Linked DNA regions of Homo sapiens: all the other regions are linked to region 1. Evidence: fine-mapped expression QTL. A gene starts in region 1. Each other region holds a variant in brackets. All regions are shown on one strand. Distances are between the middles of the regions.

What was found. PIP is the estimated chance that this variant, and not a neighbour inherited with it, causes the effect.
Region 2: its variant is the best candidate, but not a certain one, in a credible set for the expression of IDI1 in whole blood (INTERVAL, PIP 0.78).
Region 3: its variant is the best candidate, but not a certain one, in a credible set for the expression of IDI1 in whole blood (TOPMed, PIP 0.60).

What each region holds. Positions count from the first base shown.
Region 1 is chr10:1,045,420-1,053,600 of GRCh38, forward strand. IDI1 (isopentenyl-diphosphate delta isomerase 1) reads right to left here and starts at 3,700. Exons shown (of 5, transcript NM_004508.4): 1 at 3,445-3,700. The coding sequence starts at 3,584. RefSeq lists enhancers at 2,947-3,477, 3,478-4,007, 3,699-3,748, 4,008-4,537, 4,209-4,348 and silencers at 3,289-3,378, 3,389-3,608.
Region 2 is chr10:1,019,857-1,028,037 of GRCh38, forward strand. It overlaps IDI2 (isopentenyl-diphosphate delta isomerase 2), which reads right to left and starts at 6,003. Exons shown (of 5, transcript NM_033261.3): 1 at 5,960-6,003; 2 at 4,726-4,888; 3 at 2,827-2,919; 4 at 911-1,041. The coding sequence starts at 4,867. IDI2-AS1 (IDI2 antisense RNA 1) reads left to right here and starts at 2,781. Exons shown (of 5, transcript NR_027709.1): 1 at 2,781-2,927. GTPBP4 (GTP binding protein 4) reads left to right here. Exons shown (of 17, transcript NM_012341.3): 17 at 1-76. The variant C/G (reference allele first, on the strand shown) is at 4,914.
Region 3 is chr10:1,010,146-1,018,326 of GRCh38, forward strand. It overlaps GTPBP4 (GTP binding protein 4), which reads left to right. Exons shown (of 17, transcript NM_012341.3): 13 at 275-375; 14 at 2,320-2,517; 15 at 4,102-4,167; 16 at 5,608-5,751; 17 at 6,930-8,181. The coding sequence ends at 7,082. Among named protein-coding and RNA genes, the nearest start is that of IDI2-AS1, 8.4 kb to the right of the region's middle. The variant C/T (reference allele first, on the strand shown) is at 5,055.

The DNA of each region.
Region 1 (8,181 bases):
TGCTCTACTTTCTATGTGACTCTATTTCAAATACATAGATTTTACTGAAATACTTTTTTGTTTCTGAGAGGGAGTCTCGTTTTGTTGCCCAGGCTGGAATGCAATGGTGCAATCTCAGCTCACTACAACCCCCACCTCCTGGGTTCAAGTGATTCTCCTGCTTTGACCTCCCAAGTAGCTGGGACTACAGGCGTGCACCACCACGCCAGGCTAATTTTTGTATTTTTAGTAGAGACGAAGTCTTGCCATGCTGGCCATGCTGATCTCGAACTCCTAACCTCAGGAGATCTGCCTGCTTTGGCCTCCCAAAGTGTTGAGATTACAGGAGTGAGCCACCACACGGGGACCACTGAAATACTTTCAACAGAGTTCAAGCATACTGCAGAATGTACACAAAGTGTTTAAACAGCTACTTAATACAAAGTTCTAGACCCACATAGGGTCTGGGTGTGTGTGTGTGTGTGTGTGTGTGTGTGAATGCGTGTGTCAGGAGTCAGTGATGATGGAGATATTGATATCTAATACAAAAAATCTGAAATAAGGTTAATGATTAAAACAAATCAAGAGGGAAAATAATGTGAAAAGGAAGTCAACTTCAGAGTTAGCCTCAATTTTAGAAAGATTTCCAACTTCTATAGGCTAGTTTTATATACAGTCATCCTTTGGTATATATGGGAGTTAGTTCCAGGACCTCCCACAGCTACCAAAATTTGAGGATGCTGAAGTTTCAGATATAAAATGGCATAATATTTGCAGATCACCTGTGTATATCCACTGTGTACATACATGTGTCACATGATGGTGTTTCGGTACACTACAGACTGCATATACTACAGTGGTTCCATAAAATTATAACAGAACTGACATATTCCTATTGCTAATGATGTTGTAGCCATTGTAACATCGGAGCACAACACATCACCTTTTCTATGTTTAGATACACAAATACTTGCTGTTGTGTTACAACTGCCCACATTATTCAGCACAGTCACACACTGTCCAAATTTAGGCCTGAAGCAACAGGAAAAACAGCCTAAGAGCAACTGGCTACACCACACAGCCCAGCTGCTCCACTGTCTGTCTACACCACACAGCCCAGCTGCTCCACTGTCTACACCACACCGCCCAGCTGCTCCACTGTCTACACCACACAGCCCAGCTGCTCCACTGTCTACACCACACAGCCCAGCTGCTCCACTGTCTACACCACACAGCCCAGCTGCTCCACTGTCTACACCACACAGCCCAGCTGCTCCACTGTCTACACCACACAGCCCAGCTGCTCCACTGTCTACACCACACAGCCCAGCTGCTCCACTGTCTACACCACACAGCCCAGCTGCTCCACTGTCTACACCACACAGCCCAGCTGCTCCACTGTCTACACCACACAGCCCAGCTGCTCCACTGTCTACACCACACAGCCCAGCTGCTCCACTGTCTGTCTACACCACACAGCCCAGCTGCTCCACTGTCTACACCACACAGCCCAGCTGCTCCACTGTCTACACCACACAGCCCAGCTGCTCCACTGTCTACACCACACAGCCCAGCTGCTCCACTGTCTACACCACACAGCCCAGCTGCTCCACTGTCTACACCACACAGCCCAGCTGCTCCACTGTCTACACCACACAGCCCAGCTGCTCCACTGTCTACACCACACAGCCCAGCTGCTCCACTGTCTACACCACACAGCCCAGCTGCTCCACTGTCTACACCACACAGCCCAGCTGCTCCACTGTCTACACCACACAGCCCAGCTGCTCCACTGTCTACACCACACAGCCCAGCTGCTCCACTGTCTACACCACACAGCCCAGCTGCTCCACTGTCTACACCACACAGCCCAGCTGCTCCACTGTCTACACCACACAGCCCAGCTGCTCCACTGTCTACACCACACAGCCCAGCTGCTCCACTGTCTACACCACACAGCCCAGCTGCTCCACTGTCTACACCACACAGCCCAGCTGCTCCACTGTCTACACCACACAGCCCAGCTGCTCCACTGTCTACACCACACAGCCCAGCTGCTCCACTGTCTACACCACACAGCCCAGCTGCTCCACTGTCTACTGTCTACACCACACAGCCCAGCTGCTCCACTGTCTACACCACACAGCCCAGCTGCTCCACTGTCTGGTCCTTTGTCTACACCACACAGCCCAGCTGCTCCACTGTCTACACCACACAGCCCAGCTGCTCCACCGTCTGTCTACACCACACAGCCCAGCTGCTCCACTGTCTAGGTCTGCGTCAGCGCACTCTGCTTCCACAATGATGAAAGTACCTAACAATGAACTTCTCCAAAGTATCCCTGTTAAGTGATGCGGGCCGAACGTTAAATTATCATCTGTAGATGATCTCTTATAGTATCTAAAACATGTAAATCCTACATAAATAGTTGTGCTGTATTGTTTACAGAATAAGTCTGTATATGTTCAGTACAGATGAAATTTTTTTCCAAATATTTTATAATGTGCAGTTGGTTAAATCCATGGATATGGACCCCAAGGATACAGTAGGCCAACTGTATATTAGGTGATCACTAAGATAGGTTTCGTTACTACATAATTACTAGACTTTTTGACATGACTTTTTTTCCGGGGGGATGGGGCTGGGTCTTGCTATGTCTGTCGCCCAAGCTGGAGTGCAGTGGCGCGATCTCGGCTCACTGCAGCCTTCGACTCCGCCTCCCAAAGTGCTGGGATTAAAGGCGTGCACCACCGCCCAGCTGTAATGACAATTGCTCTTTCAGGATTTTCAGAATTCAGATTTTAAAGCTAAGCTGCATAATCACAAGATAAAATGAATACGTCTATTTATGCGTTTAAAGAATACCATGTAGTAGACGCGGGAACACATCATCCAACCCAAGAAAAAGGTCTAGTTCCATCTATGCGATGCTCCCCATCTCTTCTCCTGCTCCATTCCCAGGAGAAGCGCCTTGAGTGTGTTGCTGTCACCCTCTTGCACGGACGCAGGTGTATGCACCCGCGTCACACGCGTGGACTCGGCACGGGGAGGCCGGTGTCGTCACGCTCGTGTTTCTGACGATGCTGTCTACGCTTGTTTCTGAATTCTCTAAGGGGAGACTCGCAACTCTTAGTCTCCTGCGACTCGGTTTCCAGTTCCACGAGTTCCTAAACCTCAGGTGACTGTGCGCAGACGACGATCTTTTCCGCTGACAAAGAATGGCAACGTCTCTGACGCCCCGACTCACGCCTCCGCCTTCCACGGGGCGCGGGCGCCCACCACAGCCCGGGAAGGCCCGGCCTCCCTCCAGTTCGGGAGACCAACGCCGCCACCCCCAGCTGTCCAGGCCTCCGCGCCGAGACCTCACGGGTGGCTCAGACCTCGGGCCTCCTCCCCGCCCCGTCCCGCAGCTCCCCGATGCCGCCCTGCCCCTGTCTCCCGAACTCCGCCGCCCGTCCACAGTACCTGATCAGCCTCCGGCCACAGACAACCGCCGGTCCCGGATGGCGCCCGCTTTGAGCACAGTCTGCGGCGCGCACCGCCCACTGGCCCCGCCCCCGGGCCGCGCAGCCAATCGCTCGCGCCAGCGCCAGTCCACGCCACATCGCCCGGCCAATTGGCGCCCGTACGCGCTTGACGACACAATCTCGCCAAGCTTCGCCTGGTGGTGCCACCTCCCTGGCCTGTGACAACGGCAGACGCGCGAAGCACCGGGAACCTGAGCCGTGACCGCGGGCTCTGGCGCCTTTAAGGGGGTCAACACGCCCCACCCCCAGTTCCGCAGAGGCAGCGTCCCGCGACTGGGCGGTGCCCGAGACCACAGACGCCGCCAGCCAATCACGCTTTCGATCCTGCCGTGCGAGCCCGAGGCGCTGCGAACGGTGCCTAACGTCAGACGTCTCGAGGCTCGCGTTCCATGGAGGAAGCCCTCCCAATCCGAAAGCGCCCGGGCGCCAAGCCCTGCAGCCGGAAGCTCGGCGTCCCATGGGAGCGACCTCCGCATGGCTGGACCAATGGAAACGGAGGAAAGGCGGGACGTCACTGCTGACTGGCTGGTTGGGCACTCCCCCCCCTCCCCCCCCCCGAGTTCCGCCGCTGGGACTACAGCGTTTGGCTGCACGGGGAGTTCTCGTATGTCTAGAACGATGGCCTTTCTGCGGTGTCTGCGACCGGGACCAAGGCGGAGCAAAGTCGCCGGGGGTGTGGGGTGTTCCACGCTATGTTGGGAGTGTTCGCTTTCGAGGTACATGACTACGTTCTAAATTTTTTTTTTTTGAGACAGTTTCATTCTTGTTGCCCAGGCTTGAGTGCAATGGTGCAGTCTCCGCTCACAGCAACCTCCGCCGCCCGGGTTCAGGCAATTGTCCCGTCTCAGCCTCCCAAGTAGCTGGAATTACAGGCATGCGCCACCACGCCCGGCTTATTTCGTATTTTTAGTAGAGACGGGTTTCCGCATGTTGGTCAGGCTGGTCTGGAACTCCTGACCTCAAGTGATCCACCTGGCTCAGCTTACCGAAGTGCTGAGATTCCGGGTGTGAGCCACCGCGCCTAGCCCTCTAAACTTTTAAATAATCGTGAAATGTATGCGCAGCTGAAGCGAATTCAGCTATTTCCTCTACCTTTTGTGTGGAATTTAAAATACTGAACTTGTGAGATGAACCTGGTGGGCACCAGTTCTCAAACTTCTTGGTCACAGGACGCTTGCACTCTCTTAAAATGTACTGAGGACACCTAAAAGCTTTTGCTCACTGTTGTTTACTACTGCTATTTACTAACATAGAAATTAAACATATTAAAATATTCACTTAAAAAACACACGACACTAACATAAGTTATATTTTTATTAAAAATCTTTTCCAGACAAAAAACAGACTTTGATTTTGTTTTATGTGTTGACAGATCTCTTTCATGTCTGGCTTCACACAGATAAGAAAATCTGGCCTCCCGCATGCGCAGCAAGTCCTCACTGCTGTCAGTGCGTTCTTGGGAATCAGGACTTTTAAGTGAAACAACGTATAGCAAAACCAATTTTACCAGAGGCTAAAAAATAAGGATTAAGTTCCTAAAGCATACTTCTGGCCAAGGAAAAAAAAAATCACTAAGCTTCTAAAGGCCAAAGTATTCTAATATTAAACATTGAAATAAATGTGAGCTATACATACATTTAAGAAAGATGAATAAAAAGATAATTATTACTTAATTATTCCAGTTCTGGGTCATGTGTAGCTGAAGCCTGTTTCAGTAGCTCAGGGCACAAAGAGGGAACCAGCCCTGGACAGGACGCCATTCCATCACAGGGCCACTCACACACCCACACTCAGACTGGGACAGTGAAGACACACCAGTTCACCTCACGTGCACACCTCTGGGATGTGGCAAGAACTGCAGCACCCAGAGAAAACCTATGCAGGTGTGGCGAGAACACGTAAACACCACAAAGACAGTGCCCCTGGCTGGGAGTCTTTTTCTCATCAATGTTACAAAGAAATGAATGAGCACCTGCTGTATGCAGTTTGAAAATTGAGAAGTATTTTTTAATAGCCTTTTCAAATTATCTTGGTTATTCTTTTTCGATACTACTACCCCAAAACACGAGTGGTGGATTTTCCAATTACTATTTGGAATTTGAAACCACTTCAATGGACATTTTGTACTTGTTACATTAAAACTCATTATTTTTGACTGTACCTCGAATGCCTATTTTCCTGTGCGTGATGTTGAAATGTCATGCATTGGTCATTTGGAAAATACTGATTTACTGAATTAAACAGATCTTCCAAATGCTAAAACATTTCATTATTCAATATCAATCACATTGTTAATATCACTAGTAATCTCATCAGAAAAGTTTTTAAGTATTGGGAAGCTAAAGTATTGTAGCACTGGCTTCCACATAAAGTCACCAAGTTCTTGATGGTTTTAAGTTTGTTTTTTATTTGAATTTTTGCATGAAAATTCCAACATTATTGGCAACAAGTACTGAGAATTATGTTCCTTGAAGTGGCACGAACATATTTATTTTCACGAAAATGTCTGCCAAATATCTAGGTTTGAATACCTCAGTTTATCTGTCAGTTCTTTCCAGTAAAAGCGGTATTTCATGAAAAAAGCAGCTAGTTAGTTCAGCTTACAACTCAAACGTTCCCACAAGTTCTTTTCCTGGAGACAACAATCATAATTCAGCATGTAGCAGAAGTGCTTTATGTGCATTTCCCATTTTGTTATAGAGAATATTAGATGAGTACTGAATGGTCGAGATGATTAAAGTTAATATTTTTTACTGCTAACCATCAGCTGAGCCTTCAATGAGTCATAATCTTTTTGCTGGTGGAGGGTTTTGCCTCAATGTTGATGGCTGTTGATCAAGGTGGTGCTTGAAAGTTGGGGTGGCTGTTGCAGTTTCTTAAAATAAGACAATAATGAAATTTGTCACGTTGATTGACAATTCTTTTCATGAAAGATTTTTTTTAAACCACAGGAAAACTTTTTTTTGAGACAGAGTCTCGTTCTTTCGCCCAGGCTGAAGTGCAGTGGTGCGATCTTGGCTCACTGTAACCTCCACCTCCTGGGTTCAAGCAATTCTCCTACCTCAGCCTCATGAGTAGCTGGCACTATGGGCGTGTGCCACCATGCCCGGCTAATTTTTGTATTATTAGTAGAGCTTGGGTTTCACCATGTTGGCCAGGCTGGTCTTGAACTCCTGACCTTGTGATCTGCCCACCTTGGCCTCTCAAAATGCTGGGATTATAGGCATGAGCCACCGCACCCGGCCAGGAAAACTTCCAAAGTTAGAGTCAATCCTCTCAAACCCTGCTGCTACTTCATAAACTAAGTCTATGGAGTATTCTGAATCCTTTGTTATCATTTCAACAGTGTTCACATCTTCACCAGGATTAGGTTCCATCTCAAGAGACCACTTTCTTTGTTCATCCACAAGAAGCAACTGCTTATCCATTCATGTTTTATTATGCTAGTGCAGTGATTCAGTTACATCTTCGGGCAGCCATAGCCTTACAAAATGTATTTCTTAAATAATGAGACTTGAAAGTCAAAATGACTTCTTGAGCTATGGGCTGCAAAAGGGATGTTGTGTTAGCAGGCATGAAATCAACATGAATCTCCTTGTATATCTCCATCAGAGCTCTTGGGTGAACAGGAGCACTGTAAATCAGCAGTAATATTTTGAAACGAAATCTTTTTTTTTTCCTGAGCAGTAGGTCTCAACAACAGTGGGCTGACAATATTTAGTAAACCACACTGTGTAAGTAGATGTGCTGTCATCTAGGCTTTGTTGTTCTATCTACACAGCAGAGGCAGACTAGAATTAGCATAACGCTTAAGGACTCTAGGATTTTCAGAATGATAAATGAGCACTGGCTTCAACATAAAGTCATCAGCTGCACTAGCCCCCTAGCAAGGGTCAGCCTGTCCTTTGGAGCTCTGAAGCCAGGCTTTGACTTCTCCTCTCTAGTTATGACAGTCCTGGGCGGCATCTTTTCCCAAAATAAGGTTGTTTCAACTCCAATGAAAACCTATTGTTTAGCAAAGCCGTCTTCATCAGTGATCTTAGGTAGATCTCCTAGATGACTTGCTGCTTTATCTTGCACTTGCACATTTTTTTTTTTGAGATGGAGTCTCACTCTGTTACCCAGGAGTGTGGTGGTGTGATCTTGGCTTACAGCAACCTCCAACTCCTGGGTTCAAGTGATCCTCCTGCCTTAGCCTCCTGAGTAGCTGGGACTACAGGCGTGTGCCACCACACCCAGTTAATTTTTGTATTTTTAGTGGAGGCAGGGTTTCACCATGTTGGCCAGGCTGGTCTTGAACTCCTCACCTCAAGGGATCCACTTGCATTGGCCTCCCAAAGTGCTGGAATTACAGGCATAAGCCACCATGCCTGGCCTATCTTGCACTTTTGTATTATAGAGACAGCTTCTTTCCTTCAACCTCATGAACCAACCTCTGATAGCTTCAGATTTTTCTTCTGTAGCTTCCTTACCTCTCTCAGCCTTCAGAAAACTGAAGAGAGTTAGGGCCTTACTCTGGATTAGGCTTTATCAGAATATTGTGGCTGGTTTAATCTATACAGACCACTCAGAGTTTCTCCATATCAGCAATAAAGCTGTTTTATTTTCTTACCATTTGTGTATTCACTGTAGGAGCACTTCAAATTTCCTTCAAGAACTTTTCCTTTGCATTCAC
Region 2 (8,181 bases), 26 kb before region 1:
TGTTAACAACGCTAATGTAAAACACAGAATTTACAGAAAAATAGAGAAAATAAACACATTTGTTTTCCTCAGAAAATGAACACTTTCTTTGGTAATTGATAATTTCCAAAACCTCGATTTTAGCTAAGTAAATTTTTGTGGACTCAAGTCTGAATGATAAACCGGCTTTGGTTTCTTGGTTCCAGTAAACCTGTCTGTCTTCATTTAAAGAACTAACCGTGTCACACACACATCCTCAACAGAAAACCCCGTAGAAACCGGCTAGCGTTGTCAGGAGAACATCCATCCTCTCTTAAACGTGTTCTTGAGTGGATGAAGGTAACACATGCTCACAGGATCCTGGACATTCTTTCTACACTTGAATTTCTTTCTTTTTTTTTTTTTTGAGATGGAGTCTCGCTCTGTCGCCAGGCTGGAGTGCAGTGGCACAATCCCGGCTCACTGCAACCTCTGACTCCCAAGTAGCTGGGATTACAGGCGTGTGCCACTACGCCCAGCTAATTTTTGTACTTTTAATAGAGACGGGGTTTCACCATGTTGGCCAGGATGGTCTTGATTTCTTGACCTTGTGATCCGCCCGCCTCGGCCTCCCAAAGTGATGGGATTACAGGCGTGAGCCACCACGCCCGGCTTGAATTTCCTCTTCGGTGTGTGGTCGACAGATTCCTGCACAGTCTCAACCCTGCCTGGGACACATAGGGACTCACACTGCCCCATCCACAGCTACATTCACAGCCCCATTCACAGCCCCATTCACAGCTCATTCACAGCCCCATCCACAGCCCCATCCTTCATCCTCATGGTGCTTCATGAGGTCAATGGTGTAGATCCAGCCTGGACTTTGTTCACCGTCTGCCCGCTGCCAACCTGGACTCCCGTGGACACAGCTGAGACTGGATGCTGTGTGTACCTGCTCCCCAGGAATTCCCAGCTCTGCTTGCAGACGCCTCTGGGCTGCCCTCCTCACTCCGATGGCATCCTTTTCTTCCAGTTCTGCTGGGTTGTATAATGGGTGGCTACTACAGGAGTCGGTAAAATACCCTGGAAAAAATGCATGTGGGAACATCCCTCTTTATTCCTGAAAAGTGAATATATTAAATACAAATGCAGATGCTTCATGTAAAACCATCATCCGTCATCAGCAGAAGACAGCCTGGCGGGGGGAGTGGGTTTGTCATGGGCTCTCAGAGCAGCACTCGCCTCCAGCCTCCACGGCTGTGGGCTTGGTGAGGGTCTTCCACATGACCACCTGGCGGGGCTGGCCCTGACCGCTCCTGCGGCCCTTCCTGCAGATGTGCACACACATGTCCCGTGGCACTATCCCAGTATGTCTTAGGAGAGGGACTGGTTCCTACTCAGTTTTGTACCCACAGAGGACCTGAGATGCCATGGGGTGGCGGGAGGAGGTGGTGGGGCTGTGGGCTGGGTGGCTGCACCAGCTGGGCTGAGGAAGCTGGGCTGCACTTTGAGGGTGGTGATCAGTGAGCATGGTTTCACAGGAAGACTGCTGGAATACCTTTGACCAAGTTTCCTTACTGAGAGGTTCTACTTAATTTACCCAAGTAACAGCAATAGCGCTATGACGGGAGGTCACACTCTCCTCAGTAAATCTCTGTTCCCTCTCGTTCCTCAGACCCTCAGTGCTTCCTTCGGTCACTCTGCAAGGAGTTTGGCTGAAGTTGAATCCACTCTTGCAAGTACAAGAGCTGGTACTCCCACCTGCCCCTATGTATCCTGGAGGCGGCTAACACATGATAGGAAATCTTAGCTCCAGGGGCTTTATTTGCAAACTGTTGACTATGTACTACAGTTGACCCTCTTAACTTTGCAGCTCCTGAATTTTTCTGAAACAAACTTTGCATTCAGCTCCATCAAGGAGCCCGTGAGTACAACTTGACCAGCAAGTATGGTGGTGGGTTTGGGAATGGGCAGGATGTACCCACTGCGGCTCCGAGGAAGAACTAAGGGAGGAGAAAACCTCGGCCACAGCTGGCCGTGCTTAGCCATTCGCTTTAATGGCTCAGGCAAGGTCTGGTTTTGAAAATTTGAGGACAGCCTAGGCCAAAACACTTTAAATGACCACAATTGACGTAAATGCTGTTCCCCTCTAAAAAATTTTTTGGCCGGGCCCGGTGGCTCACGCCTATAATCCCAGCACTTTGGAAGGCCAAGACAGGCATATCACGAGGTCAGGAGATCGAGACCATCCTGGCTAACACGGTGAAACCCCGTCTCTACTAAAAATACAAAACGTTACCCGGGTGTGGTGGCGGGCGCCTGTAGTCCCAGCTACTTGGGAGGCTGAGGCAGGACAATGGCGTGAACCCAGGAGGCGGGGCTTGCAGTGAGCCGAGATGGCGCCACTGCACTCCAGCCTGGGTGACTGAGCCAGACTCCATCTCCAAAAAAAAAAAAAAATTTTAAGTTGTAATTTTAAGAAGTACAAGATAATTAAAACTCTAAGACCTGTAAGATAATTTTTATTATTATTACCTAGTTAATTTTATGCTAAATGCTATTTTAATCCCCTAAATCCTTAGGTTGATAAATTCCTCTGCATTTAAGTAACTTGCCGTTGCAAAGAAACAACAAAACAAAAAAACCCAGAAACTCATATAGTTTCTTACTTTTTTAAAAAAGAAAACCCAGCCTACTGAAGAGCTATCAGCATAATTAGCATCTGCCTAAGCTGCCGATTTTCTGCAGGATGAGCTGCCAGCTCACCACAGTGCGGCACTGAGCACCAGAGAGTTCCTGTCCCAGATTCCTCCGGTCAAGTCACATGAGATGCTCTCTTCAGTCCGGGGCTTGGTTGAACGGACTCACCAGGAAACGTGACTTTCGTGTCCGACCTCTGCTGTATCAGGATTCGATTCTTGGTGTTAAACAAGACAACGCTGAAGGCTCGGTGCAGCAGCCCTGCAAAGGTAAGTGCCATTTGTGTGAGTGCATGCCTGGAGTCTGTACGATTGTCCTTCGTGCTTTTTGTCCTCAGTCTGTTTCTCGTAGAAAAGCCTGTGATTGTGGCACCTGGGCAGGGCAAAGGGGACTGCTGGATGCCCAAACACAACGTTTCAGAATCTCAGCGGATTAGAACACTCGGGAAACTAAAAATAGATCTACCAGATGACCCAGAAATCCCACTACCAGGGCAAATATCCAAAATAAAAGAGATCAGTCTATCAGAGAGATATCGCAGCATTCCTGGGTGCTGAGCACCATTTACGACAGCCAAGATATGAGATCAACCTGTGTCCGTGGAGGTTTGAAGGGTTGAAAACATGAGGGTTAGATACACAGTGGCATACCATTCCACCACAAAAGAAGAATGAAATCGGGCCGGGTGCGGTGGCTCACGCCTGTAATCTCAGCACTTTGGGAGGCTGAAGTGGGCGGATCACGAGGTCAGAAGATCGAGACCACCCTGGCTAACATGGTGAAACCCCGTCTCTACTAAAAATACAAAAAAATTAGCTGGGCGTGGTGGCAGGTGCCTGTAGTCCAAGCTACTCGGGAGGCTGAGGCAGGAGAATGGCATGAACCCAGGAGGCAGAGCTGGCAGTGACCTGAGATTGCACCACTGCACTCCAGCCTGGGCAATGGAGCAAGACTCTGTCTCAAAAAAAAAAAAAAAAAGAAGAATGAAATCCTGTCATTTGTAGCAACATGGATGGAACTGGAGGCCATTGTGTTAAGTGGAACAAACCTGGCACAGAAAAACAAGTATCACATGTTCTCACTGCTATGTGGGCTCTAAAGAAGTTGATCTCATGGAGGCAGAAAACACAATGCTAGACACCAGAGGCTGCGAAGGGCAGTGGGGAGGGATGACGAGAGGGTGGTTAATAAGTATAAACATACCGCGATAGAGAAGGAATAATATCAGCTGTTCAATAGCACAGTAGGGTGACTGTAGTTAACAACAGTGTATTATATGTTTCAATGTGGCTAGAACAGAGGATTTGGAATGTTCCCAACACAAAGATATGATGAATGTTTGAGGTGATGGATATCCCAAAATGCCCTATTTGATCATTATGCATGACATGGTGGTATCAAACTATCACATGTACCCCATTAATATGCATAATTATTATGTGTTTATAAAAAAGACACAAAAATGAAAATTAAAAAATAATAAAATGGCTTAAGATGGTCAAAGAAAACCAGAGCTGGACAGGAGTTAAAGCAGGAAAGTCTGACTTTACTGAGAACCATTTCAATAGGGGAAAGAGACCTCCATGGAGAACCAGCCTAACTGCACACAACACCCAAGGAGCAGGCTGGGGCCTATGGATTAAAAGTTACTAAGAGAAAACATCAGTGGGAAGGGGGTTCTGGCTACACCGACCTAACAAGACCTGCTGAAGACAGGCCTGCGTGATCAGACGTCACCTGGGAGGGACGGGGTTGAGGAATTTAATCAGATGCCAAGGTCAGGGTTCTCGCTAAAACAACCTGGTAGAATTCTTGCTGAAACAGGATCTTACGAGGAAGAGCACGGATGCCTAGGAGAAGGTGCAGGAGCCTGACAAGGGCTTGACCAAGCAAAGACGTCATCCAGGTGCTGCTCCCCGAGCCTTCTAAAGACGGCACAGCAAGCACACAGGTGACCCAGTGGTCGCCTCCTAGCCGGAAAGGCCTAGACTCTCTTCTTAGGTTGCCGTCGGGTGGGAAAAATGGGAAAACCCTGGGAACTGGACAGAGAAAATGGGCGGGGGCTACCTTTCTCAATGTTTTCGTTCAGATGGCAATTCCTCTTGGTGTCGGCACCAATAACCTTATCATTCTCATCCACAACAATCAGCATTTCCTCCAAGCGCTGCAACTGACGCCTGTCAACCCAGTCAAGATTTATGTCAGACATAGCTGCTGGCTGTGACCCGACCTGAAATAGATGCACACAAATGCCT[C/G]TTTATGTGAAAGATATTGCCATCTCGTTTTTGCTATGTGTTACCAACCACATTAGGATTTAGCATACACCTTCTCTACAAGTGACAGCAATTGTGTTGAAGCAGCACAGTTCTGAGATATGGAAGGTGAATCATCTGTTTCTAATGTGGTGTCTCTCTGAACGGGAAATCTTGGGTACATACATACTCCTCATGTTTTCCAGGTTTCCTTTAGTGACGAGTTAAAGAATCCCCGCCCCACCACACACACACACACACACACACACACACACACACACACACAAAACACACCGAGGTAAACTGTAGGTAACACTCTTTGTACAAGTTTTTGGGGAAAAGTGCAGCCCTGTGCAAAACCACTGGACCTGGATCAGACGTGGAGAAACACACAGCCTTGTAGGAAAGCTACGTCACCCACAGAAGGGCTATGGTCCTCTTCAGAGCCAAGCAGATTCTTAGGTGAAGATCTTCTCACAAAATGTTTTCAGGGCCAGGAGCGGTGGCTCACGTCTGTAATCCCAGTACTTTGGGAGGCCGAGGTGGGAGGATCACTTGAGGTCAAGAGTTTGAGACCAGCCTGGCCAACATGGTGGAACCCTCTCTCTACTAAAAAATACAAAAATTAGCCAGGCCTGGTGGCACATGCCTGTATTCCCAGCTACTCAGGAGGCTGAGGCAGGAGAATCACTTGAACCTGGGAAGCAGAGGTTGCAGTGAGCCGAGATCGTGCCATTGCTCTCCAGCCTGGGCAGACAGAGTGAGACTCTGTCTCAAAAAAAAAAAAAAAAAATGTTTTCAGGGTCATTTATCTTCATGTAAAACCTTCTCATCATCCTTTTCTACTTTTTAAAAAAATGCATTCACGTCTGTCCATTATCATTACTGTTAATATTTTCAGCAATCTGCTCCTCCTCTTTGCAAAAGGCTGTTTGACTTAATGCATGGACATGAGATACAATAGAAATGCAGAGAAAACAATTACTGAATATGTACAAATTTAGATCATAAAAGAAAGAATTCCCACAAGGTAAAACATATGCACTAACCTCTCTTGGAAGCTGGAGACTCCTGGGTATCAGATGTGGAACTCAATGTGCAAGTTGAACCAGGGCCCTTTTATACCCTGGGGATGTAGAAAGATATCAGCTAAGGCAATCTGATATTTTTGTATTCTTAACAAGAAAACACACCCCGGTCTCTCTCTATCTCTCCATCTCTTTCTCTCTATCTTTCTCCCTCTCAATTGAGGGATAATAGAAAATTGTTTTGACACAATCTCACTTTAAAAAATGCTTTTAGTTTTTAAACCTAGGGTAAGTTATTTTCTACTCTATGGCTTTCTTTTTTTTTTTTTTTTTAAGGTGATGTCTAGCTCTGTTGCCCAGGCCAGAGTGCAGTGGCGTGATCTCGGCTGACTGCAACCTCTGCCTCCCGGGTTCGGGCGATTCTCCTGCCTCAGCATCCCGAGTAGCTGAGATTACAGGCGCCCGCCATCACGCCCAGCTAATTTTTTTGTATTTTTAGTAGAGACGAGGTTTCACCATGTTGGCCAGGCTGGTCTCCATCTCCTGACCTCAGGTGATCCGCCCGCCTCGGCCTCCCAAAGTGCTGGGATTACAGGTGTGAGCCACGGCGCCGTTCGATGGCATCTTTTTAATTCACTTGCTGTATATATCATCCCAGATTTTAAAAAGAAAAAATAAAGGTGGCAAATGGAAGAGAAAAATAATAAACATTGTGACTAAAATTACTGAATAAATTCTTAGGATAGCTGAAAATCGATAAATAAATGCAAGACCTTGGAAACCAATGTGTTTGGAAGAGCTAAAAAACTGTATAATTTCTTGCCTATCATATTCCAAATATCATCTACCAACTAAAGCTCTAGGCCAAATAGTTTTGCAAGTAGGGTCTCTTAAAATATCAAAAAAATGTTTGCCATATCTGTCGGTTCTCTCAGGGAATATGAGGAGAGAAGCACGATGGACGCATGACTCCGCTGACTTTGGCACGGATAATACAGAACAAAAATAACACAGCAGCAGTGATGGGTAATATTCTATAAAAAGATTAATGTGTTTTGCTCTTTTGTCTTTCCATAAGTTCACCTTTATGCATGTAATTTTTAGTTACGTAGAAAATCAAAAGGCTATGCCTGAAATGTTTTCCCTGGAAATCAGTTCTGAGACTCAGGAATAAATGGTCTGTTTGAAACTTGTTTCTTTTGCAGTCAGAAGAGTAAGAATGGGAGAATGATACTCTTTTAAAGATCTAAAAAATAATAAATAAGTCTATGAATTAGGCTTTGAGGAAGAAACTAATATACAATACCGTACCTATTATAATCCAACAACTCTAATAGTAATAATAATAATAGTAAGACAGCCAGACACACATTGTGTCCTTCCTTTGTGCCAGTTTCTATTTTAAGAGTTTAATGTATATTAATTCATTTGGTCCTCACGACAGCTTTCTGAGATAAGCGTTATTTTTTATTATCACAGCATCGATAAGGAACTGAAGCACAGAGAGGTAAATTACCTGCCCAAGGCAATGTGGCTGCAGATGCAGCTGAGCCCCCAGAATCTGTGCAGTTTAACATGTTGGGATCGTCACCACCAAACTAAGCACTGAAAGCTTTAGAGGCAAATGTTATCAAAATTTCAAGGAAGGAATTGTCATTCTCTGTAAAATGTTCTAGGGGATAAAAAAGGAGGGAAACCCTTTGCTAGGTTGATCTGGGTACAAGGTTCTGACACATAAAGCACACAAAAAACATTATAAAGGAAAGGAAGGAAGACATTTTGATTAGGCTATATGCGGAGAATTTTCTTAAGAGAGGTTATGACAACTTTAAGAATGACAGTTGATGACCTATAATGCTGCAGGTAGGAGGTTAAGAATAAACTCTAGGAATAGATGATTACATCTGATTAAGGCAAATTAGAAGCAACAGAAAGGGCTCTAGATATCAGTGAAATATAGAGAAGGACATGGAGGCCAAGACTGGGAAAAGCAGGTAAAAAGAAATGGAAGTGGAAAGAGTTAAAAAGGAGTAGGCCAAGTATTGTAGGTATGAAAGAGAGGGTAAAACAAATACAGCATGTGCTAAAAGGGGTATCCTTGAACAAGAGAGCCATAATAATAAAGAAAAATATCCCAGACACACAAGATGACTTAAACCCACAGATGGAAAGGGCTTGCCATGTTCCAGAAATACTGACACATTATCGTCGACACTGGGGTAAACTTCTCAGATCTCTGAGAA
Region 3 (8,181 bases), 35 kb before region 1:
GATTTCTGTAGCTTTCTCCACGTGTGGGTGTTGAATGAGGCTGATGTGTTGTTTCCTGTTGTTTTGGGATGGTGGGGTGATTTCTGTAGCTTTCTCCACGTGTGGGTGTTGAATGAGGCTGATGTGTTGATGCTGCTGCATGTGGAATTGCACGTCGTGCTCTCTTCTGCAGTGGAGTCGTTGATTTGCCGTCAGTCACAACTCATTTTGCGCACGTAGTACTTGAAGATATTAAAAACTGCTGTAAACGTAACCACCTTTTTTTTAACTTTAGAGTACTGGGATTTAATGAATTTGTCTGAAAAACATGATAAGATACCAGAAATCTGGGAAGGCCATAATATAGCTGATTATATTGATCCAGCCATCATGAAGGTTTGTGTCACTTTTTAAATTGCGGATTGTTTTCCTTTTTATTATAGTAGTATTGCTGGAAGATAGCAGCATGGCTTCGGCTCAGCTGGGCCTGTCCGCTTCATTCTGCACCCCTCCATCCTGACTCTGCCCCCTGTACCACTTCCCCACCCTGAGACTCTGGTGGAGATACTGGCCCTGGCTGGGCTCTGCTATGCTGGCCTGCCCCCTTCCCGCCGCCTCCACCCACCCACCCCGGACACTCTGGTGGAGATGCTGGGCCCCTTCGTTATCCTGCACCCCTCCATCCTGACTCTGCCTCCTGCACCTCTTCCCTGTCCCGACACTGGTGGAGATGCTGGGCCCCTTCATTCTCCTGCATCCCTCCATCCTGACTCTGCCCCCTACACCACCTTCCCCACCCCGAGACTCTGGTGGAGATGCTGGGCCTCTTCATTCTCCTGCACCCCTCCATCCTGACTGTGCCTCCTGCACCACCTTCCCCCCCACCCTGTGTCTCCGCCAGGCCCTGGATGGGCTCTGCTGTGCTGGGCCCTTCATTCTCCTGCATCCCTCCATCCTGACTGTGCCTCCTGCACCTCTTCCCCCCACCCCGAGACTCTGGTGGAGATGCTGGGCCCCTTCATTCTCCTGCATCCCTCCATCCTGACTGTGCCCCCTGCACCACCTTCCCCACCCTGTATCTCCGCCAGGCCCTTAATGGACTCTGCTGTGCTGGACCCTCTTCCTTGGGGGCTCCGCTGTGTCACATCTTTTTCCTGCCTCAATCCCCTCCCTACTTGCTTTTTCTTAGCATATAAAAGTCCACAAGTTTTACTCATCTTTTTAAAAAACGAAAACATCCTTAGACCGTGTCCTCCATTAGTTGCTATCCTGCCTTCTTCTCTCAGCTGAGCTGTCTGAAACATGCTAACATGCTTATACAATACTTGCTGTCCTGCCTTCTGCTCTCAGCTGAGCTCTCTGGAACATGCTTTTTATACAATACTTGCTGTCCTGCCTTCTTCTCTCAGCTGAGCTCTCTGGAACATTCTTTTTATACAATACTTGCCATCTGCATGTCCCATGTTGCCACTCCTTGGTTCCCACAGGCCCTCCGTCATTGAGTTCACATTTTCAGTCTCGTGGTCTCTGTGCTCCCTGTGCCTCCATAGCAGATTCTGGGATAGCAGATTCTGGGGGCAACAATCTCAATTTCGTTGGTGCTGGAGGAGTGGCCTCAGGGCATCTGCTGTCACCTCTGCTGGGGCCCCAGTCCAGCCCGTGCCCTCACTGTCCCCGCGGTGGCCGCCTGCCTTCCCAGCCTCTTCCCCTCTGCAGTGCGCGCTCTTGGGCGCAAGAAGCCTTGAGACTTCCCTCCTCCGCACAGCTGTGCCCGTGCCATCCCCTTCCACGAGGCCTGGCCCCCGTCTCACCCTCTGCACTGCTGGCCAGCATCTCGTACAGGCACATCTGCCTGCTGGGCTCCTGGCCGGGTTGCCTCATTGGGGGGTGATAAACGTGTGTGTTTTAGTTTTCATTTTTGTCTTATTTGTAGCCAGTGAGGTTGTATTTGGGGTGACATTAGAACGGACACGTGGGATGTGGCACGAAATCAGTGTCTCAGGACTGAGTTCCTTGTGTGTGTCTGCCGGGAGCATTGGAAGTGAAGGAGGCGGTCTCTGCACATTTTTAGCCTTGGAATTTAATTGTTTTAAAAAAAGGAAATGGTGCACAGGGGTTACTGACTTGCTGGCGGCTGGCGTTCACGTGGTCTCCATTTTCTTCACAGAACCCTCCCTGTGAGGTAAATGGCACATAGGCAGGGCCCAGGTGGGTCTGGACCAGGGCAATCGCTCTCCTCTGAGTCAGGGAAACAAAGCTCCCATACACACTCTGCCACACTCACTGACTCAGGGGTTTTCTCATTGTTAATTTTGCTTCATTACAACTCCATTTTTAAAGAAATTGGAAGAATTAGAAAAAGAAGAAGAGCTGAGAACAGCTGCTGGAGAGTATGACAGTGTATCTGAGAGTGAAGACGAAGAGATGCTGGAAATCCGACAGCTGGCAAAGCAAATTCGAGAGAAAAAGAAGTTGAAAATTCTGGAGTCCAAAGAAAAGAATACACAGGGACCCAGGATGCCGCGAACTGCTAAGAAGGCAAGTTTGTGTCTTTCCAAAGCAGTGTGATCTAGTTTTTGAAAATTGGATTCCTGTGTGATCATTGCTAAATAACAACTTTTCAACCCATTTATGGCCATAAGATTGCACATTCTTGTTTTATTGGTGTATGGATTTGCAAGATCGCTCACGTATTGATCTTTTATATTCTTTACTGCGTCCTTTCTTGGTGACTTTCAGCTTCGAGTTTGGCACTACTCTAGATCCAGTCATTTTGCAGTTGTACAGATTAAAACTGTAACTTATGGTTCACAGACGTTCAAGGCTATCAGTGAACATTTTCCTCTTCTTTTTTCTCTCTCTCTTTTTTTTAGGGGGGAGATGGAGTCTTGCTGTGTCTCCCAGGCTGGAGTGCAATGGCGCCATCTTGGCTCACTGCAGCCTCCACCTCGCGGGTTCAAGCAATTCTCCTGCCTCAGCCTCCCGAGTAGCTGGGATTACAGGCACCTGCCACTACGCCTGGCTAACTTTTGTATTTTTAGTGGAGATGGGGTTTCACCATGTTGGCCAGGCTGGTCTCAAACTCCTTACCTCAAGTGATCTGCCTGCCTTGGCCTCCCAAAGTGCTGAGATTACAGGCGTGAGCCACCACGCCCGGCTGGTTTTCTTGTTCTTTAATTTCTGCATTAAATCTGGACTCTTTAGGCCGGGCGCAGTGGCTCACGCCTGTAATCTCAGCACTTTGGGAGGCTGAGGTGGGTGGATCACGAGGTCAGGAGATTGAGACCATCCTGGCTAAAACAGTGAAACCCCGTCTCTACTAAAAATGCAGAAAAATTAGCTGGGCGTGGTGGCGGGCGCCTGTAGTCCCAGCTACTCGGGAGGCTGGGGCAGGAAAATGGTGTGAACCCGGGAGGCAGAGCTTGCAGTGAGCCGAGATTGTGCCAGTGCACTCCAGCCTGGGCAACAGAGCAAGACTCCATCTCAAAAAATAAAAAATTTAAAAAAAAATCTGGACTCTTTAGCAATTTACAGAAACCTGACGCAGTCTACAAAAGGCAATTTATTGGCTCTGTGGCAGGGTGGGACTGGGGGAAGAAAGCCCACATGCAGGGCAGTTAACATGTAACCAGAGAAGTCACTTGACATTCAGGATGCCTCTCAGTGGGTCTTCCTGTTTGAATACACTGTTTTCACATGGTGGCAAGTGACTGGTTATGGCGGACTTGGACATTTTTGTACTTCTCCAGGTGGGGCTCAGCCATCTCTGGGAGGAGAGAGGTTGGCGCACTGCCTTTGTCTGAGGCCACCTCACTAACCTCAGCTTTAGTGTCTCACCTCTGATGGAGACGGTCACTCTCTCCCCCGTGTTGCGGTGAAGAATGGACAGACGTGGAGGATACGCTGATTCTTCCCACAGCAACTGCTCTGTTAATGTTAGTTTTCGTGGGATTTAATTGAGCTATCCAAAAACATGAAAGCGGGGCCCAATAAAAATTACAACTTCTAAAATAAGTATATTATAATTGTTGCAAAATATGTATACATATATATTGCCTTGAAGTTTTTTTCAACATTTCATCAAACTAATTTAAAGCTAATATTTCTTTTTATCCTTCTCAGGTTCAGAGGACAGTTTTGGAGAAGGAGATGCGTAGTCTTGGTGTTGACATGGACGATAAAGACGATGTGAGTGTGGGGGCGGTTCATGTGTTTATGTGGCTGGATACACCTTTTTAATAAAGAAAACTGGCCGGGCGTGGTGGCTCATGCCTGTAATCCCAGCACTTTGGGAGGCCAAGGCGGGCAGATCATGATGTCAGGGGTTCGAGACCAGCCTGGCCAACATGGTGAAACCCAGTCTGTACTAAAAAAAATACAAAAAATTAGCCGGGCGTGGTGGCGTGTGCCTGTAATCCCAGTTACTCAGGATGCTGAGGCAGGAGAATTGCTTGAACTTGGGAGGCAGAGATTGCAGTGAGCTGAGATCGTGCCCCTGTACTCCAGCCTGGGCGACAGAGTGAGACTCCATCTCAAAAAAAAGAAAGAAAGAAACCAGGGTTTTGGAAAGCCGTGGGAACGTGGGAAATTACAGCAAAAAGAAATGAGAGCTTCCAGTTTTTCTCTTTTGAGATTCGCTGGCCCTGGGACTGACTTGAAGTGATGGGTTGAGGATTCCCTGACCCTGGGTCTGGGTTGAAGTGGTGGATTGAGGCTGCACTCCAGCCTGGGCAACAGAGCAAGACTGTGTCTCAAAAAAAAAAAAGCTCCACAGCCAGCACGAGACAGCACCATGACGTGCCCAGGGTGTGGCTGCAGACCCTGTCCTCTAGATGTGCAGTCTGCAGTTTCCGTCTGATGGTTTCTGTCTGATGGTTGTCCCTTTGTGTTCATATCAGTAACCCCCAAAATGGGGCAGTGAGGGAGAGAGCATTGTTTATATCTGAAATATAAATTGTGATGCTATACTATAATAATCACTTTTAAATGAGAGTTCTAAGTTTCTTTAAGTGGAGTTAAAATCAGCTTTCTTACGTAAAGCAGCTTCCGTTAAGTGAATAAGAATATTTGACCAA[C/T]AACTAATGTGAAATTGTTACTAATGTGAACTTGAAATGGTGTCACTAATATGAAAATACTGCGTGTATTTTCAAGACCTTTAGCCCATGTGTTAATGGTTCAGACGCTCCTCTCCTCCCCTCTTGCTGGAGTGACCTCATGCCTGTCGCTGAGCCTGGGTGCGGGGCTGGGGTCCTGAGCTCTGAGCCTGGGAGTGGACCTGGGGTCCTGAGCGCTGAGCCTGGGAGTGGACCTGGGGTCCTGAGCGCTGAGCCTGGGAGTGGGGCTGGGGTCCTGAGCGCTGAGCCTGGGAGTGGGGCTGGGGTCCTGAGCTCTGAGCCTGGGAGCGGGGCTGGGGTCCTGAGCGCTGAGCCTGGGAGCGGGGCTGGGGTCCTGAGCGCTGAGCCTGGGAGCGGGGCTGGGGTCCTGAGCGCTGAGCCTGGGAGTGGACCTGGGGTCCTGAGCGCTGAGCACTGAGCCTGGGAGTGGACCTGGGGTCCTGAGCGCTGAGCACTGAGCCTGGGAGTGGACCTGGGGTCCTGAGCGCTGAGCATTGCTTCCCCTGCTTTGCAGGCCCATTACGCAGTCCAGGCAAGAAGATCCCGGAGCATCACTAGGAAAAGAAAGCGGGAAGACTCTGCTCCCCCGTCCTCTGTGGCCCGGAGTGGGAGTTGCTCTCGAACTCCACGTGACGTTTCTGGTCTTAGGGATGTCAAGGTCAGTCTCTGTGTTGTGTAATGTAATAAAATGACAGTCTCTGTTGTTTATTGCACAGGGTTCAGGGCAAACACCAGCAGTTGCCATTTGCAGGAACTATGGCAGGGGTTGTGTGTACTGCATGCCCTCGTTTTGTGGCATCCTTTAGAGGAGAGCACGGGTCAGGGTGCAGGTGGATGCCCCTGACAGCTGCCCTGGATGGACCCCTCCTTGGCACTTTGCTTTTGCGGAGGGTGGCCAGAGCATGGTCTGACAGCACTAGCAGTCTGGGCTTAGACCCTGCTGTCTGAAGAGGGCCAGGAAGTGGCCACAGCTGAGCACCAGGAGGCCTCAAGTCCAGCAAGCCCCCCATGGGAGGAACAGCAGAGGGAACTCCTGGGTTGATTGGCGGGTGATCCTGCTCATCCTTAGGTTGCAGGATTGTTCCCCCCAGGTGGAGAGCTTGAGTCACATTTAGTTTATTTGTAGCGTCTTTTGGCAAAGACACTTAAGATGGACACAGTCTGTCTTGCTGAAACGTCCTTTTATTAAACACAACAACTTTTAGTTTCAGCGTTGTGGTAATGGAGATGCAGGAGAGTCTGTGTATAAACTGCAGTCTCCTTCATGGAAGCCTGAGCTTCACTCCTCTGTGCCATTGCCATCTTGAAACCTGGCTGTTAATATTGGCATTGCCACTTGTCAGTCAGACCTGAGGAAAACAGGTTCATGGGCCTGAGTCCTTAGCTTGTGTAAGAGGGAGTTAAAACAGATGTGTGCTAACCTTCTAGGTCTAAAGTGTATCTAGTCCTGGGTATAAAGCTTGTCCTGGGTATGATTTTCATCCAGTCTTTATACAAAAATACTCATTGAGTTCCTGCAGATAACTGTGCTGGGCTTAAGAGAAAAGAGATGTAACAGGGATAACTGTGCTGGGCTTAAGAGAAAAGAGATGTAACAGGGGTAACTGTGCTGGGCTTAAGAGAAAAGAGATGTAACAGGGGTAACTGTGCTGGGCTTAAGAGAAAAGAGATGTAACAGGGATAACTGTGCTGGGCTTAAGAGAAAAGAGATGTAACAGGGTCTCTTCGCTGAGCAGACCTGAGCCATTAAACAGATTGTTACCCAGTAGTTGAAATTCAGAATGGAAAATTGGTTTTAAGTAATGAACATACTTTATTTTTTTCTCCTCCTTTTAGATGGTGAAGAAAGCCAAGACTATGATGAAGAATGCTCAGAAGAAGATGAATCGGTTGGGGAAGAAAGGGGAGGCGGATAGACACGTGTTTGATATGAAGCCCAAGCACTTGCTGTCTGGGAAGAGGAAAGCTGGTAAAAAGGACAGGAGATAGTATCCGTTTGGTTGGCGTGGCTTCGCTAGAGTGTTGCTGTTTATTTCCTGGTTTGGCACAGTATGGTTTCATGAAATTGGAGCTCTGTATAAACTGAAAAAGACAAAATAAGTAAAGCACTTGTTGCTTTGCTGAAAACTATGGTTAACCCTATATAGGTGTGGGAAATTTTTGTCACTGCATAATATTACAAATATTTTGAGTAGACAGTGTTTCCACATTTAATGGAGTATCAGTTGCTTCAGATTTTCAGAACTGGGAAGATTTACTGGTTTAACTAGGTTGTTTTTGATGGAGAAAAACCTTATTTTCTTTTGTAAGAGCTGGGAGCAAACACGTTTATGAGTGTGTCGGAATCCCGTGCTTAAAATACGCTCTTAAATTATTTTCTAGTCTTATTTTACAATGTCTCATTGTAGTCTGTCTTCAACTATTTTATCCAAAATAAACCTCCAGAAGAAAGTAGTTTTCATTTACTTAGCTCATGTTTTGGTTTAGTTATAGTCGCTATGGATTTGGCCAAATAAAAAGGCAAACAACATGACATTTCTATTTTGTTTTAAAGCAAAAATACTTTTGGGGGAGTAAAATGTTGCTGGAGGCATTAGGCAATTAAATATGGGCATTCTCCTATTTCTGTGGCCCGTCCCTGAAGTTACATGTTCAGTAAAACACAAAAACACCGCCAATGCCACCTCAAAAGCACCTGCTGGGGAGCGTTGGGGTGAAGAGCTGTGGGGTCGGAGGGACCTGCCCAGGGGTCCGTGTGCTCCTGGAGCTCCAAAGACACACAGGGGTCCAAGAGCCACCACGGATAAGTTATCAAGTCACACAATCAACATTATAGCTGAGGAAAGGACTTTAGTTAATCACACTTCTGGATTACATGTGGCAATTTTAAAAATTTACCAGGGCTGGGCTGGGCGCAGGGGCTCAAGCCTGTAGTTCCAGCACTTTGGGAGGCCGAGGTGGGCAGATCAGGAGGTCAGGAGTTCGAGACCAGCCTGGCCAACATGGTGAAACCCCATCTCTACTAAAAATACAAAAATTAGCCATGCGTGGTGGTGGGCATCTGTAATCCTAGCTGCTCGGGAGGCTA